Regions from separate parts of the Homo sapiens genome. Here region 1 is linked to region 2. The links come from fine-mapping of genetic effects on gene expression. A gene starts in region 2. The other region holds a variant in brackets. All regions are shown on one strand. Distances are between the middles of the regions.

Region 1 (4,373 bases), 23 kb before region 2:
AATGGAAGTCCCGGCTCTGCAGGGCGTCCCCTTGCAGGCCAAACTTGCGCAGGCTTCCCGGGGTGTTGGTGGAGCTCGGGGGTTCGTCCCCCAGCAGGTCGTGCTCAGAGCTCTCTTCGTTCCGGGTGCTCTCGTCAGTCCGGCCCACCCCGCTGTCCAGCTCCTGGCTGTTGCTCAGGCCTGGGCCGGCATCGGGAGCCCCCTTCTCCTCTTCGTTTCCGGGCTAGAGCAGAAAGGTAAGTACCGCTCAGTTAGGTCCCACGGACAGGGATGTCACGGGATGTCACAGGAGGATCGGAAGGGGCTTCAGGCCTGGTTCATTTCCCTGCCAAGCATTGGGAGACCCTGCACAGCCTCAGCGCCTTCCACCCAGTTCTCTCCTCCTCGCCCTCCCCACCAGCGCCCTTTTCCTTCCTCACCTGCTGGGCAGGGGGTGATTTCAGTTTACGAGCACGCAGCTCCCCCTCATTCTCAGAGCCAAAGTCATCCAGGAAGTCATCCCGGTCGCTGTCCTTCCACCTTTTCGCCAGCTGTGGAGACAGGCCCTGGTGTCCCCACAGCTTCAAGGACCTCCCCATATACCCTTCTTGTCTGCTCTGGACCCCGCACTTGGCTTGTTTCGGTGAAGCTCAGCAACCTGGGGGCAGCGTCCCAGCCCCCTCAGCCTTCAGAGGCCAGGAGGGGAAACGGGCCCTGAGAGACCCCTGCCCACCCGCCCTCCATCAACTCCAGGTCGTTGGCACATCTGTGCCCTAGTCACGGCCAGCAGCTTCCAAGACAGAAAGCCTGATGTCGTGGCCCCGGGTCGCCCTGCCAGGCATACACACCTGACTCTCAGGTCGGGCCACCAGCAGGGAGATGTTGGTGTTCTCTTCCTGGCTCAGGATGGCCACCGCCTCTTCCCGGTTCTGGACGTCTACACCGTTAATCTGAGGCAGGCAGGATACAATCAACAAGCATGCTAGGGCTGGCCCTGGGGCGGACCCTGGGCGGGTGCAGGGAGCCCAAGCACTCTGGGCTCGGCTGGGCTAGGCTGGGGCTTGAGCTCTGGGAGGATGTAACTAAGTGGAAGGTACCAGGGAGAGGGCGGCCTGACTCTTGCAAGAGCAAATGTGTGCTCAGGAGAGCATGGAGTGGGGCAGAGGGAGAGGGGCCAGGAGGTTTCAGAGCAGCAGGGGCCCTGGATGCCAGCAGATCCCATAGGCACACGGGAGCCACTGGGGTGAGTGGGCAGGAGAGAGATGAGACTCAGCCCGGGTTTAGGACACGGCAGGCTGCTGGGCCTCAGGGTTAGCTCTTAGTGGGAGAGAGCTAGGGACTGGCTAAAGAGAGGTGGCTGGGCCGACGGGCACAGCGGGGCCTTGGGCCAGGCCTGCAGCCTGCAAGTGCTCACCTGGATGATGCGGTCTCCCTCACGGATCCGGCCGTCTTTGGCTGCAATGCTGTTGGGATTTACCTGCAGGACACACGCATCTTGGGGACTTGGTGCCTAACATGCCCTTTCGGTAGAAGGGGGCAGGCTCACCTCAGGGGCCCCCAAAGCAAGCTGAAGGCTCTCTGGCTCCCCTTCCAGCTCTGAGCCCCAGGAAGCAGAGGCAGAGGCTGTGGAGTAGTCACCTCTCCCCGCCCCTGCCCTGCACTCCTAGGCTCTTCTGCACGGAAGCCTGTGCTTTTGGTCAGCCCCGGGCATTGGTGGGAAGTAGGACATTGTCCATCTGGAAGGGTGGCTTTAGTGGGATGCTACTAGTAGGGAGGGGAGCGAGGGGCCATCCCCCTCCTGGGGATACACAAGACATCTGCCCAAGATGGGTTCGGGAGAAGGCTAGACAGCAACCCTGTTGCTAGTTCTCAGGCCCATCTGCTGTCCCACCCAGGCACAGGCCTCTTTCTGCAGATGACTACCTCACTGGACAGTGGCTGAAGCCGTCGACCATCATCGCCTCACCACGCAGCACCCTAGCTGTGATGCCCTGT[T/C]TCTGGTAGCTGGGACCTTAAGGGCAGCCTCTGAGCCACAGGCAGGCCATGTGGATGGGCCTCGGGGCTGGGGCATACCCGTCTGCATACCTCTCCGACATAAATGCCCAGGTCCTCCTCGTCGTCCGTGCGGTAGCAAACCATCAGGCCCAGCTTGTCCCGGTGGCTGCTTTTATACAGCTCCACCTCCTGCCACGAGGGGTCCGGGAGGAAGCAGAGGTAGAAAGCCCCAGAAATGCGTGAGTGAGGGAGCAGGCAGCACAGCCCAGCCCCTCAGCCCGCAACCCCTCAGCCCGCAGCCCCTCAGCTTCCTCTGGAGCCCCCTGAGCTCAGTTTCCAGGCCCCGCTTTGAGGGTCTCTCTTACCATCCCACGTGGCGCACGTACTCAGTGGTCTCCCTCCCAGGAAATGCACGAGGCACACACAGGCACAGGACACAGAAGACAGACGTGCATGGGACGTGGACTCACCGACATGGACGGAACACGTAACCTCACCCGCACCCTCCCTGACTCAGCCAGATGCGTGCCAGGAGGGCCACGGGGTTGGGCCTGGGCAGGAAGGCACACAGGCGTCGGGGCGGCTCCCGCAGCTGGCTGCGGGCCCTGGCCTGGCCACCCGGCTCACCTCATACTCCAGCTCATCCAAGCGGTCTGCCTCCTGCGGGCCGCCCTCCATAAACTCCGCCGGGTCATAATACTCATGGCTGATTGGGGGGCTGCCCAGGAGAAGGTGGGGGTCAGACCAGCTGGCCATCCTCTCACACCTCAGCCCCAGCTCCCAGGCAGGCCGATCCCAGCGTGCCTGGCACGGAGGCCTGCTCTGCTTGTGCTCTCAAGGGTGGGTGGCCCAGTTGCCTCCTGCAGAGCCCCTTCCTGGGCAACATGCAGCCATGCAAAGACCGGGGGCACTTCTCGCACCTGAGTGTGCAGCGTCCACGCAGAGGACCTGCGCATGCCTCTAGCGTTCCCGTCCCCCAGACCAGAACTCCTCCAACCACGCCAGCTGGCAGGGACCAACTTCTCCAATCTCCGGGTGCCCACCCGCCCGCCCAGCACTGGCCCCACTCATGCAACGCCCCCAGGAGTTATCCAGGCCCTGGAGGACTTCTGCAGAGCAGAGGGGGGCCCACCCTACCTCCAGGGGCTGCCCTCCTGGCCCCAAAACTAAGGTTGGCTGCTCATGGCCCTGTGGCCTACCTCCCCGCAGCCCGGGCTAAGATTAGCAGAATGAGGCAGCGCTCACGCGGTCATGAGCCACCAGGCCTGGATGAAAGGCCCTTCTTCCGGTCGGGCCAAAGAAAGAAGCTGAAGAGATGGAGGAAATTCAGAGCAGGTAGAGGAATGAGACAGACAAGGGATGCAAGAAGATTCAAGGAGTGATGCTTGTGAGGCGGCAGAGGAGAGAGGATGGAGGAGGAGGAGCTGAGGCCCTCAACCCTGGCACTTCCGGCAGCGACGTCCCGGACAGGAGGGTCCTCCCTCGGCCCTGGGGGTAGATACAACGGGGCGCCTGCTGGAGCCCGGCCCAAGGCTAGAGGCCTGGAGGTTTTGGAGCCCTTGGGTACCACGGTCAGTTCTGGAGGCCGAGGGGCCTGCTTCCTGCCCGAGAGGGTGGCGTGCGGATGGCCGCTCCAGGTGGCCTGTCCTCTCTGGAGGCAGGGCCCGGGGCCCTCCTGAGGGCGACTCACAGCTCAGAGAGGACGTACGGCTCCAGGATGACCATGGGCGGGGTGGGCGGACGCAGCTTGCCCAGCGCCATGATATGCTCGAAGGTGATGTCGGTCTGAGTGCCACTGTCCACCAGCTGCAGGTCGTGACAGGAGCTGTCCCCCCGGAGGCGGGGGCTGCGTCTCAGCACCTGGATCACCAGGGGCTCCTTGGAGGAGCGCAGGGCCTGCAGAGTTTGCTCCTGAGACAGCTTGGAGAGCTCCTTCCCGTTCACCTGCGGCAGAGACACGCCTCCGTAAGAACCCTCAAAGGCTTGCTCCTCCCCTCTGAGGTCAAGGCAGAGGCCCTAGCTGGCAGGACCTGGGCTGACAACCAGCACCCCAAGCCACTCAAGCAAGGAATCTGCTGTCTGCAGCCCTGGCTACCTTTGGTGCCCCTGTTCCCAGGCAAGCCCCACTGCTCAGCCTTCATCCCACTGAAGGCCAGCTGGGGATCACCAAGTCACACCAAGGACTGGGGGACCCAGCCTCTGTGCACTGGGTCTGGAGGCTGTGATACCGCCCTACAACGTCCTCCAGACACTGCTTGAGCTCTCCTGGCCTCTCCCCATCCGGACCCACTTCTTTCTAGGGCGGCACTGAGGCCAGAGCTAGCATGAAGATCCCATTGAGTTCCTTGGCAATGACTGGACCATAACAGCCAACACTCAGTGAGCATCTGTGTTGTGCT
Region 2 (4,373 bases):
CCAGAAGCTGACCTGTCTTTTGGAACAAAAGCTCCTTCTCCTCTGAAGAGGCTGGGACCTGGTGATGCGTCCACCCCCAGAAGCGCAGTCCCCTGGGACAGCTCATGGCTTGCACTGCTTTCCGTATCTACTTTTTTCAGTCCTCTTGTTTTCCCTTAGTTGTGAAGGATGGTTCTCCTCGTAAAATCCCGGCTTTGATTGGGCCAAGGAGGAATGTAGAAAGTGAAAGTTTGCAGCCAAACTCCCACGGTTTCAAAGGGAGCCCAGCAGGAAAGCGCACAGAGGGCGCATGCGGCAGTGGCCCTCCTCCTGGCGGGTCTCCTTGGGGTGGGCAAGTCCCTTCCATGAAGGAGAGCTTAGGGCGCAGAGCAGGGAGGGCCCACCCAAGTTCACCTCCCTGAAGGCAGGCCCAGCCCGACCTGCCGAGGCCTTCCCGGAGGGCTGTGGGGAGCCCCAAGGGCTACCGGTGTCGTCCCATGGCTCATTTCAGGCCTGGGGTGCAGCTCGGGTCGCTCTCCCCTATCCACACGTCCCCACGAGGTTGGCCTTAAATGAAGTGCGACACCAATCCTTCTCCAGGAAAGTCAAAACGGCCCCGGAGGAATCGCTTGGAGAAATCGCTTGCCGTTTGATGGAATGACTCCCGAAAAGGAAGCAGGAGGATGGGATCCAGAGTCCCCGTCAACCAACCATCCCAGCCCTGGAATCCAACACGGATTCCACAGGACGCCCTCTCGGTCGCATTCCTATCCCGCTAGGGGGCTGGCAATGGCCACACAAGGTTTCCAAACAGCGGGAACAAGAGACGAGGAGTGGCAGCCGGGAACTGAGAGGGAAGAAGGCGGAGGACAGCGAACGGGAGAAGCCGAGGGCCCCGCGCACCCCCGGAGAAGGGCCGGGGAGAGAGGACCAGGAGCTCCGCCAGGGTGGGGCAAGATTTGCGTCCCCGCCCTGCCCCTCGGCTCCCGCACCAGGTGGCCAGAGGAGCTCGGCTCACAGCGTGAAGTCAGTCCCCGGATTCCTGGGAATTCTCCCCCGTGCCCAGCCCCTCCTTCCCCCGCCCCCGCCCCCGCCCCGGAGTTCTCGCCGATCCCTGCACGGGTTCCCCCACGTTCTCCCAAGCCAACACCCCTCCTGCAAAGCACTTGATTCCTTCCCAGTCCAGACCAATAAACCCGGGAGTTGAATCCAGGCCACTAAACGCATACCTGTCTGAGCCCTGTCTGCTCCTGGGTGCCTTGACCTTGACCTCCCTCCACTTAGCCCTAGGAGGTCTCAGCCCACAGCATCCGGGACATTTCTCTAGACAGTCTGCAGGGTGCACACAGAAAGTACACAAATGCGGGGCCGGGGGAGCCTCCGCGCACACAGAGACGGGGCACAGGAACGCACTCACGTAGTCACGCCACGCACAGGCAAGAAGCCCCGTTCCGGGCCGCGGGGCTGGGCTCCAGGTCCGAGCTCCGGGCCCCGCGTCTCCTTCCCTCCCCGCGGGGCCCTGCTGGTCCACGCCCCGCAAAGCCCGGCCAGGCACTGCCACCCGCAGAGAGCCCAACCCGCTGATCCCGGCGGCGCCCACTCACCCGAGACGCCTAAGGCCCGGGAGCCCATCGTTCGGGCAGGGCCAGGCGGGAGTGGGTGTCGGGGTGGGCACCCAGCCCCCGGACGGACTTGGACCGCGCCCGGGGACGCCCACGCACTCCCACGCTCCAGGCCCGCCGGGATCTAGATTCGGCGCCCCCCGCACGGCGGGAGCCTGGCTCCCTCCCCCGCCCTGGGTCCTGCGGGGAGAGCGTGTGCGGGGAACTGCGCTCGTTGCTATGCAACCTCCATCCCGCGCCCGCCGCACCGCGCCTCCCGGGACGGAAGCGCGCCCCACCCGGGCCAACCCCAACTTCCCACCCCACCCGTGGCTGGTTCCCACGGAGCGCCAACACCCAACAGCCCCAGGATGGGAGGGTGCGGACGGCTCCCTACCTTGTCCTCCTCGAGCCCTCCCGCTCTCCCACGCCCGCCGCTCCGGGCCTCCCCACTGGCCCGCTCCTCCCCGCGGAGGGCCGCGCCCCCGCCGCAGCGCCGGCGGCCCTACCTGCAGCATCACTTTGTACTGCTCCTCCGGTTTCTGGACCACGCACATATTACATCCCATGTTGCTGGCCGGCGAGAGGAGGCGGAGGGCGGGAACGGGAAGACGCCTTTCACTGACCCGGGCGCGGGACCTCGGGTCCCGGGCCGGGGCCAGGGGCCATACCCTGGCGCGGGGGGCGGGCCGCCTAGCGGGGGAGGGGGGCACGCCCCCGAGGTGGGGGCAGCGGCTCGCCCCTCAGGTTAACTCTTCGCTGGCCGAGGCCAGGCGCGGGCATGCTCCCTCGCACCCGGCCAGGAGAAAAAGGGCAGCGGGGGATGGGCGGGCGCGCCGGGCGTTGCCAGGCTACGGCCCCCCAGGGAGCGCGGGGGCGCGCCGGGCCGCCAGGGGCCGTCAGGGGCCGTGGGCCGCGCGCCTCCCCGCCCGCGGGGCCCGCCGCTGCCGCTGCCGCCTCCGGCTCCTGCCCATGGCCGCCAGCCCCGGGAGCCCGGCCCTCGCGCTCGGCGCCGCGGCCCGGCCCGCGACAGGGGGGCAGCGGCGCGGCGGCGGCCCCCGCCCGCGGCCAGGCCAGCGCCCGCGCTCCCGCCTCGCCCGGCCGCGCTCTCGGAGCTCCCGGCGCCCGCTCTTCGTCCAGCAGCCGCTGGCCGTCTCCAGCTCCCGCCCGGGACGACGGGCACGCGAGCGCGCCCACGGCGGCGGGGGAGGGGCGCGGGCACGGGGCGCACGCGCGCCGGGAGGGGCGGGGAGGGGAGCGGGGCCGGCTGCGGGAGGGAGCGGCGGGGGCGCTGGAGCCGGCGCGGGAAGCCGGGGGCGGGCGCTCGACGGAAGCGGGCGGGGGTCCTAGGCACCCCACGACACCCGGCGTCCGGTCCTGAGGGGCGGGCACCAGGCGCGTTGTCTGCGCGATGCCGCTCTGGGAGAGAGGGGTCCTGCCAGGAGGAGCAGTCTCCTGGGTCCCCCAGAGAGAGTCCGCGATTTCAGCCCCTCTCCCCGGTCTTGGACGCAGCAGCCCTCACGCCTCTGCTCCTTCCTCGGGCTTCGCCTTAAATGACTGCATCCCTCCTTCAACTCAGCCATTCCCTGCTGTCTTTGAAACGGACACCTTTGTTTAAAACAAGAAAGAAAGAGAGAAAGGGAGGAAAGAAAAGAAAGAGAGAAAGAAAAAAGGATGAGCGAAGCGTGGGGAGGGGGTGGGTCGTGGGGAGAGTGGCCTCGGAGGCCTTGGGACCCGGGCCTGCACACAGCACTGGCCAGCCTGGGCCCGCCGCCTACCTGTTCCTCAGCCCCAGCCCTCACCCGGTCCCCGCTTTCACAGCCCTTCCATCTCTTCCTCTTCTCTCCCACCACCTCCCCGTCTTCTTGGACAAGCCTGGAGGGAGAAGGCCTTTGCCTGGAAAGCAGCAGCGGGTGGAAGTCTGCGTTCCCAGAGGCTGCCCCGGCTGCAGGAGATCACTTGGAGAAATTGCTACATGCTTCATTTCCAGGTTTGGGCAAGTGAGGGAACCCCCAGCCACACGGGGCTGTTGAATCGGAGCCCTTCCTTTCCTCCCTGGCTCCTCGTTAGAAGAGAAATCAAGAATGGCGGGCCTGCCCAGAATGTGGAGAAGAGAGGCGAGTTTCTTATCCAGGGCTTCTCCCAGAAAGCAGAACTTGAGACAAGGGCTGGTGTGCAGGTTGCAACCTGCCACCCAATGGCTGGCTAGTCTTGAGGAATGGCGTCATATTGAGGGCTCAGCATCGGTCTCTGCAGCTGGTGGATGGAAGAACATTCACTAGCGGCAGTGTCTAGATGAGCCGTGGTAAGAGGAAGCCCTTGCCGTTGGGCTTATACAGAGCCTCCAGCCCTCCCACCATGGCCACTGGCATCGTGGGTCCATCGCATCCTGGGGAGAAGCTGGCTGACCTCCACCAGATGGTCCCCTCTGTTCGCTAGCTTCTGGCGCGCCCCCTCCACACTGCATGCTCCCCAGCGGCATGGGCGCGAAGACGAGCACGGGGCCCCACACTCTCCCTGAGCACTCCCGTAGGTACCTCTTCGCCAAACCTGTCTCTTCTTCCAATCTTCCTCCACCCGGGTCCCTGACCAGTCAGCCCAGCCATTTTCCACTGCCCGGGGGTCATGGACACCTTCATCTCAGGCCATTTCTCCCTCTACAAAGTAGACAACCTAGTGTCTTGCTCCCCTAGAGGATGTCCCCTCACTGCTGTCTCTCAGGGCCACCCTGCAAAGGGCCTCAGTGTGACAGCAGGTGTTTTTCCTAGTGGTGACATGAGATGACCAGTCGAG

Direction of the effects. Alleles are on the strand shown, and positions count from the first base shown. SD is a standard deviation of normalised expression in the study named.
In carriers of allele C in region 1, the expression in testis of the gene that starts at base 2,395 in region 2 tends to be higher than with T alone (small effect, 0.20 SD a copy in GTEx).

Evidence for each region. PIP is the estimated chance that this variant, and not a neighbour inherited with it, causes the effect.
Region 1: its variant is the best candidate, but not a certain one, in a credible set for the expression of PDZD4 in testis (GTEx, PIP 0.71).

Annotation. Positions count from the first base shown.
Region 1 is chrX:153,804,678-153,809,050 of GRCh38, forward strand. It overlaps PDZD4 (PDZ domain containing 4), which reads right to left. Exons shown (of 8, transcript NM_001303512.2): 2 at 3,665-3,918; 3 at 2,602-2,692; 4 at 2,065-2,163; 5 at 1,394-1,456; 6 at 828-929; 7 at 420-530; 8 at 1-223. Among named protein-coding and RNA genes, the nearest start is that of SSR4, 12 kb to the left of the region's middle. The variant T/C (reference allele first, on the strand shown) is at 1,975.
Region 2 is chrX:153,828,150-153,832,522 of GRCh38, forward strand. PDZD4 (PDZ domain containing 4) reads right to left here and starts at 2,395. Exons shown (of 8, transcript NM_001303512.2): 1 at 2,090-2,395. The coding sequence starts at 2,149.